Regions from separate parts of the Homo sapiens genome. Here regions 1 and 2 are each linked to region 3. The links come from fine-mapping of genetic effects on gene expression. A gene starts in region 3. Each other region holds a variant in brackets. All regions are shown on one strand. Distances are from middle to middle. Region 1 overlaps SPG21 (SPG21 abhydrolase domain containing, maspardin). Region 2 holds the start of LOC124903508 (a long non-coding RNA gene). Region 3 holds the start of PDCD7 (programmed cell death 7).

Region 1 (2,844 bases), 170 kb before region 3:
CTTAAAGGTACACATAGAAATATTTACAGATGAAATGACACAGCACCAGAAATGGCTTTAAAATAATTTAGTGATAGGAGCATGTGTGGAAGAAACGTGGGTAGGTTAAAAGATGAACAAGTCCGGGCATGGTGGCTCATGCCTGTAATCCCAGCACTTTGGGAGGCTGATGTGGGCAGATCACCTGAGGTCAGGAGCTCGAGACTAGCCTGACCAACATGGAGAAACCCCATCTCTACTAAAAATACAAAATTAGCCGGGCGTGGTGGTGCATACCTGTAATCTCAGCTACTTGGGAGGCTGAGGCAGAAGAATTGCTTGAACCCGGGAGGCGGAGGTTGCGGTGAGCCGAGATCACGTCATTGCACTCCAGCCTGGGCAACAAGAGCGAAACTCTGTCTCAAAAAAAAAAAAAAGAAAAGATGAACAAGACTGTCTGAGAGTTGATAATTTTTGAAGCTGGATGATGGGAACATCATTCATTATGCCATTTTCTCTACTTCATGTGGGTTTAAGCATTTTCACTCAGGGGAAAGAAGACGAGAAAAGTACCTGGCACACAGTAGCAGATCAATAAATGATAGCTTAGGGTTATTTTATGATGTGCAAACTGTACTTCAGGGAGATTAAGTAACTTACCCAAAGTCACACAGAATTGGCAACCATGACCTACTTCTCAGAAAGTCCTAGGCCTGTGTAGCCCAGTTGGGCAGCAACAATAATCACAAAAGCGACTCAGTTAAATTGAATTTTTATTCCAAATGACTAATATCTAGAAAGGCAGTAGCTAACACTCAAAACAATTTGTTTAAGTGTAAATTAAAAGCAGTTGATTTGCAGGAGAGCAAACAGTGGGGTAGTGGCCATGGCACTCTGATCATGGTTATATCCAAGAAAGCATAAAATAACCAATGTCCTGATATGCAATCTGGATGTGCAGCATTTACAGCAAACAACATAAAAAGAAAGAAAGAAGAATGGAAAAGAAAAGAAGAAAAAAACCACCACAAAGTCCCAAACCTCAGAAATTAACATTCACTTAAGAACACAGTGGTGAAGACTTTTGGTAGCAAAATTTGCACGGTTCTTAAAATGGGAGTCTTCAAAAGTACTTCTTCAAATTCAAAAGCTAAGAAAACCAAAGAGGGAACAGTTACACAGGCTTAGTGGAGATGCCGCCTGTCATGAAGATGACCATCAGTCCTACTTCCCAGACACAGTGAGAACCGGTGAGCCTGACGAACCTGAAGGAAAAGGCTGGCTGACGGGTGCTGATGCCACTGACTATACAAGAACACACCGGGTCAACTCATCATTGACAGCGAGAGACACACTACTGCTCCTCCTGGCTGATGCCAAGGCTGCCTTTCTGCACCTCAAGCTCCTCGGCACTGACCATTGATGGGTCAATGGCCGC[G/A]TATTTGGTTCCATGGAATTGCAGCAAATGTATCTGTTGAAATGCAGAATCATTATTTTATTTATTTTTTGAGCTGGAGTGTCACTCTTGTTGCCCAGGCTGGAGTGCAGTGGCACTATCTTGGTTCACTCCAACCTCCGCCTCCCGGGTTCACCCAATTCTCCTGCCTCAGCCTCCCGAGTAGCTGGGATTACAGGTGCCCGCCACCATGCCCAGCTAATTTTTGTATTTTTAGTAGAGACAGGGTTTCACCATGTTGGCCAGGCTGGTTTTGAACTCCTGGCCTCAAGTGATCCATCTGCCTCGGCCTCCCAAAGTGCCAGATTACAGGTGTGAGCCACTGCACCCTGCCAGAATCATTGTTTTAAATGGCTGCATTACAGAGTAAAATGTATACTGCCTTCTATAAAAAGTTTGGTAGGAAAACATCACCATAGTGGACAAATGTTTTATACTTCTAAAATTTACAGACTAAGACATACTAAATAGAGAAAAGTCAAACAATTTTTTGAAACCACATTTGGGATCTTTGTTCCTCACTCCCTGAGCAGTCTCCCTGAGTCCCTGCAGAGTCTCCTGAGACATCTTAGATGGTGCATGCTCATGAGATGTTTACCCTTCCCTTCTGCTGCTGTGAGTTAGGTCCTTCCAATCTTCTGCTACTGTGACTAGTGCTGCTATGATGAATATCTCTGGGCATCAAGTATTCCTGTTTAGGATCCTGTCTTCTATAAGGGGATGACAGGATCAAGGGATATGACTGGTTTTTGGGATTACAGGTGTGAGCCACCATGCGTGGCCAGGATATAACTGGTTTTTTAAGGCTCTTGATTCATCTTGCCAAACTGCCAGGGCACTCACCCCTCACTGCTATTCTATTATCCATTTAGTTAGAGTATGAAGGGATGGTGTTTGTTAGGGCTTTCTTTTCTTTTCTTTTTTTTTGAGACGGAGTCTTGTTCTGTTGCCCAGGCTGGAGTGCAATGGCGTGACCTCGGCTCACTGCAACCTCTGCCTCCAGGATTCAAGTGATTCTTCTGCCTCAGCCTCCCGAGTAGCTGGGACTACAGGTGTGCACCACCACGTCCAGCTAATTTTTTTTGTATTTTTAGTAGAGACGGTTTCACCATATTGGCCAGGCTGGTCTTGACCTCCTGACCTTGTGATCTGCCTGCCTCAGCCTCGCAAAGTGCTGAGATTACAGGCATGAGCCACTACGCCTGGTAGGGTTTTCTTTTAATGCATTAAAATTAGATCAAGAAGTCACTTCACAGGACTCAGATTGACCCCATTTAGGTCTGGTGTCTTGCTCTGATGGAATTCACTGTGTCCAGAGGGCAAGGTCACATCATACCAATAGTAACCTCAGTGTGTGAATGCAGGCCTGCTGTCCTTAGAAAAGGGATGGTGGCCAGAGAGTCACTGGG
Region 2 (2,844 bases), 290 kb before region 3:
TGGGATTATAGGTGTGAGCCACCACACCCAGCCACAACAGGTATTTTTTGAATGGACGAATCAATGAATAAAGAAACCACTCCAAGTCCTGATCCCTCTATCTCTTTTCTAGCTCTTGAATCTATCCTCCACATCTTCGTAACCACTGCTCTGGTTCAGTGGTTCAGCAAGTTGCATTACATCCAACTTGGATTTCTGGAATAATCTACTCAATGGACTACCCTGTCTTTCTTGCCCATATTGCAGTCATGAAAATGAGCTTGTAAGATGAAAATGAGATTGTGTCATACCTCACTTCAAGCTTCAGTAGCCCCCTGCTACTTGCAGGAGGAATTTCAATCCCTTAGGTCAGCACTCAAGGCCTTTAGTGCTCTGGCTCCTGCTGCCTCGTTGGCGGCATCTGACCGAATTCGCCTTCCCCATCCTGCCCCCAACACATATGACCACATAAAGACTGCCTACAATTCACCTAACAAGTCAGGATATTCTACAAGTTCTCACTTTTGTGAGATGTTCTCTTGTCCTGAACTTTCCCTCCGCCCCTATCCAACTAACCCTGCTGGAATACAACTCAACCCCTCCTCTGGGAGCCACTCTCACCACACACCATGTACTTTTTCATCAAAGTCCTTCTCAGGGCTGGGTACCATGTCTGAGGTCTATAATCCCAGCACTTTGGGAGGCCAAGGTGGGAGGATTACTTGAGCCTGGGAGGTTGAGACTGCACTGAGCTGTGATTGCACCACTGCACTCCAACCTGAGTGACGGAGCAAGACCCATATTATTATTTTTTTAAGTGTCCTTATCAGGACTTGTCTACCTTCCTGCTGGTTTGGTTCATCAGCTCTCCAAGGCAGGACCTAGATCTTACGTGGTGTGGTCACACGATGCTGCCCAAAGGAGTCATGTGGAGTCAGGCAGGGTTTGAATCCAGTCAAGTGGCCTTAACCAGGTCATCTAACTTCTTCAAGCCTCAGGTTCCTGATCTGTTCAATGAGGATAACAATTGTATCTATTTCATGGATACTTTCGTGAGGATTAAATGAGATATAGGGAGAGTTTAGAATACTGAGTAGATAACAGGGGGCCTTACATTCTTTTCAGTGAATAATTGTAGGATGATGCCTTAGAAAGCACCCCCACTTAAGGGGCACTCAGTACACTTTGCAGAATGATTAAATG[G/A]TACACACACAAAACAGACCCCCACACCTCCCAAACCTTCAATGACTTCCCATTGCCCTGAGGTTAAAATGTGGTCTCCTCCACACAACCTACAAGGCCCTCTCTGCACAAAGCTGTCTGCTTTTCCAGACTGGCCGCCCTACATACACATGCTGTGCTGTTCATGCCTCCATGCCATTGATTACACGCTGTCCCCTCTCCCTAGAATGCCTGTCCTACCCCTTTGTCCTGGTTCTGGTGCCCCTTCTCTGTGCATTTACCTTCTCATTTAACACTCGGCATTCTCATCTTCTTACATGCCTTTCTCCCCAGTAGAGGACAGGGATCCTGAGCTCTGCCATTATCTCCCAGCCACTATTGTAGGGACTGACAGACAAAGAAAATAAAATATGTGTTGAATGAAAGCACACAGTATAGAGGCAAAACCAGAGGGTTTTTTGAGCTAGATGGGGAAACTGAGGCCAGAGTAGTTCTCAATGGCTCATTCCCCAAAATGACAGAACTATTTGGATGTCAAACCAACCTGTCCTCACTGCTCTCTCCCTACAAAGGGCTGCTTCTGTGTAACAAAATGAATTTCCCCAGGGTCTCTGGTCTGCTGCAGGTGGAGCATGAGTTTCCAGATACAAGATCTTCTGAGTCCTTGATCATTGGAGTAGAATGCTGCACAGCTCTGCAGATTGAGGGAGTAAAACCATGTGGTGGCCGAAAGAGGTTGCTACATATACAGACTATCTCAGATCCTCAGCCTCAATTTTCCTTCATCTTTCCTTCCTTCCTTTCTTTCTCTCTTTTTCTTTCCTTTCTTTCTTTCTCTTTCTTTCTCTTTTCCCTCCTTGCGTCCCTCCCTCCCTCCCTTCTCTCTCTCTCCCTTTTTTTTTTTGACAGAGTTTCACTCCTGTTGCCCAGACTGGAGTGCAATGGCGTGATCTCAGCTCACTGCAACCTCCGCCTTTCGGGCTCAAGCGATTCTCCTGCCTCAGCCGCTCAAGTAGCTGGGATTACAGGGATGCACCACCTCGCCTGGCTAATTTTCTATTTTTAGTAGAGACGGGGTTTCTCCACGTTGGTCAGGTTGGTCTGAACTCCCGACCTCAGGTGATCAGCCTGCCTCAGCCTCCCAAAGTGCTGGGATTACAGGTGTGAGCCACCGCTCCCAGCTCTTTCTTTTCTTTCCTTCCTTCCCTCCGTCCTTCCTTCCTCTCTCCTTCCTTGTTTCTTTTCTTTCTTTCCTTCCTTCATTTCTCTTTCTTTTCTTTTTCTTTCTTTCCTTTTTTCCTTCCTTCCCTCCCTCCTTCCTCTCTCTCTCCTTCCTCTCTCTTTCTTTTCTATTCTTTCTTTTTCTTGACCAGTGTGATAATATCAGCCTCAATTTTCTTCATTCCTTTAGCTAAAGGATCCCAGGCCTAGGCATGAGGGAGAAGTGTACCTGCATCTCCTTCCCCCTTGGCCTGGGAGCCCCAGGCTGCCCTTTTCCGTACAGGGCTGGAAGTAGCCTGGGAGCCTGAGGGCTGGCAGAAGGCCGTGAAAGGGGAGCTTGGTCGCTGGCACAGCCGCTGCTATGGCAGCCAGAGCCGAAGAAGGTCACCATTGATCTCACATGCACTTAATTTTCCCTTCCTTGGCATGGGACGGGGTTGACCAGGAGAGCTAAGGGGGAGT
Region 3 (2,500 bases):
TTCACCATCTTGGCCAGGCTGGTCTTGAACTCCTGACCTCGTGATCCACCCGCCTCCGCCTCCCAAAGTGCTGGGATTACAGGCGTGGGCCACCGCGCCCGGCCTGTATTTTGTATTCTTAAAACCACCTAGGGCAGTACAAGACACAAGGAACTAGACACTTACTGGTTTTGAGAGTAAGTGGACAATGTTGGAGCAGGATAGGGGAGACCTGTCATTCGTGCAGTGCCACCGTGTAATCCTATACTTTGTGTTTACAGGATTTTACAGTGCACCTGGAACTTTTGTGTACCACACATCATTAACACAAAATTAACATGGTGGTATGAGCTGGGAAGGTTAGCTATCGCTTCATTTTGCGCGTAAAACAGAGGCTTAGCCCTGGGAAATGGAAGTTTAAAGCCTCCTGCTGCTCCAGGTTCCAACCACCACCACTCCTACCCCCATGAGCGGCCGCTGCTCTCACCCGCTTCTTCTCCTCCACCTCCTGCACACACTTCACCCTCCAGCGGTCAATCTCCTGCTCGCGTTCCACTGCCCGCGCGGCCTCTGCCTCCCGCTCGGCCTCGCGTTCCCGGGCCCTCTCGCGAAGCCGCAGCCGGCGGCGCCGGACCCTCTCCAGCCTCCTCCGCGCCTCGCCCACATAGGCAGCCTGGGTCAACGGCTGTAGCCGCTCGGCCAGTTCCGCGCGCAGCGGCGCGGTCTGGGAGTACAGCAGGACCCAGGCCGCGCCGTCGGCTTCGGCCTCGCGCAGGGCCTGGCTCAGGCCGCGCAGCCGCCGCACCAGGCGCAGAGCCCGGAGCAATCGCGCGCGCACTTCGCCAAGGCTGGGCCCGGCATGCGTGCGCTGGGGCACCGGACAGCCTGCCCGCCGCGGGGTCCCGAACACCGCCTCCAGCCACTGCCGGTCGCGCAGGCGTTGGAGGGCCGCATCCCCGAGCACGTCGGCCGGCGGCGGCGGCGCCTCAGGCCACCGCGGGCTCCAGGGCGGCCCCGGGCCGGGAGGCGGTGGCCGCGGCCGCTCGCCGGCGTCGGTCCCCGGGAAGGGCCGACACTGGGGCGGCGGAGGAGGCAGCGGCGGTGGTGGCACCGGGTAGAAGGCGCCAGCGCCGCCTCCGCCGCGGGAGGCCTCCGCGGAGGCTCGGGGCTGCAGAGCCAGCGGAGGCTGAAGGAAGGGGGCGGAGGCCCCCGGAAAAGGGCCGGGCCGCTGGGGGAGAGGCGGCGGGAAAGCCGGGGAGGGCAGCGGCGGTGGCGGACAGCCGAAAGGAGCAGGAGGCGGCGGCTGCGGGGGCGGTGGGCCTGGGCGACCCTGGCCGAAGAATGGTGGCAGGGCCATGTTCACGACGGAGATGCTTTGAGAAGTGACAGGAATCTGAGTGGCTCCTCATGAGAACCTTCCGACGGAAGTGACGTCGTTACGACGCGCGACCCCTGTAGACTCGTCCCTCCGGAAGGCTCAGTGCATAAGTGGGCAGTCGTTCAACCTTCTGTCGTTCAGTTCATAAATACCGTTCTTATTGAGCATCCTAGGTGCAGAGCTACCCACTCCGCATACAGTGAGACTGAGAGATACAGAGCTTCTCTTCGTGGAACTATCTGCCTAGTATAACACACTAATCAATTAATCATGGTGAGTATCTTCGAGAAGTTGGAGAAGGTTATCCTAAGAAACTGCGGCTGCAGCTGAGATCTGGAAGATAAATAGTTAAATAGAAAAAGAGAGGGAAGCACAGTGCAGATGAGAACATGTGCAAAGGCCCTAGTAAATAGGAGTGTGACCAACTACCCATTTTCTTAGAAAAATGAATTATTTTTACTTTTCTCCTTTCACCCCACCTCCTATTTAGCTCTTTAGGAATGCAATTATAGGGTGGGTGCTGTGGCTCACGTCTGTAATCCCAGCACTTTGGGAGGCCGAGGCAGGCGAGATCGGCCTGTAGTCCCAGCCATTGGGGAGGCTGAGGTGGGAGGATCACCTGAGCCCTGGGAGGTAAAGACTGCAATGAGCCACGATAACGCCACTGCACTCCACCCTGGGCGACAGAATGACACCTGTCAAAAAAAAAAATCCAATTAACCTTTACCTTCTCTCCACCAGACACTCTCTACACTGTAAGCTTATCTAATTATGTGTTCGCTTATTAGTTCCAAGGACCGAAGCTTAAACCAGGGACCTCTGGAACTTTCCCATACCAGGGGATTGCCTGGGGACAACTGTCAATTTACAACCTAGCTCCCCGCTACCCCCCACCCCCCCTCCGCCTTCGCCCCAGCCTCCATGGCGCCAACCAGATCACTGATGGATACATAGGAGCAAGTCCCATAGACCCAGCACCTCCTTGGTCCCTCCCCACCCCTTGCATGCCATCCAGGTCAACCAAGTCCCGTGCACCCCCCACTTTTTTTGAGACAGAGTCCCTCTGTCACCCAGGCTGGAGTGCAATGACGCACTCTCCACTCACTGCAACCACTGCATCCCAGGTTCCAGTTATTCTTGGTG

Evidence for each region. PIP is the estimated chance that this variant, and not a neighbour inherited with it, causes the effect.
Region 1: its variant is fine-mapped to the expression of PDCD7 in whole blood (TOPMed, PIP above 0.99).
Region 2: its variant is fine-mapped to the expression of PDCD7 in blood mononuclear cells (TOPMed, PIP 0.99).

The regions. Positions count from the first base shown.
Region 1 is chr15:64,962,287-64,965,130 of GRCh38, forward strand. It overlaps SPG21 (SPG21 abhydrolase domain containing, maspardin), which reads right to left. Exons shown (of 9, transcript NM_016630.7): 9 at 736-1,450. The coding sequence ends at 1,334. Among named protein-coding and RNA genes, the nearest start is that of SPG21, 26 kb to the right of the region's middle. The variant G/A (reference allele first, on the strand shown) is at 1,418.
Region 2 is chr15:64,838,149-64,840,992 of GRCh38, forward strand. LOC124903508 (a long non-coding RNA gene) reads right to left here and starts at 2,008. Exons shown (of 4, transcript XR_007064682.1): 1 at 1,706-2,008; 2 at 1,443-1,548; 3 at 872-986. The variant G/A (reference allele first, on the strand shown) is at 1,183.
Region 3 is chr15:65,132,446-65,134,945 of GRCh38, forward strand. PDCD7 (programmed cell death 7) reads right to left here and starts at 1,363. Exons shown (of 5, transcript NM_005707.2): 1 at 467-1,363. The coding sequence starts at 1,336. RefSeq lists silencers at 589-988, 1,049-1,258 and an enhancer at 1,549-1,648.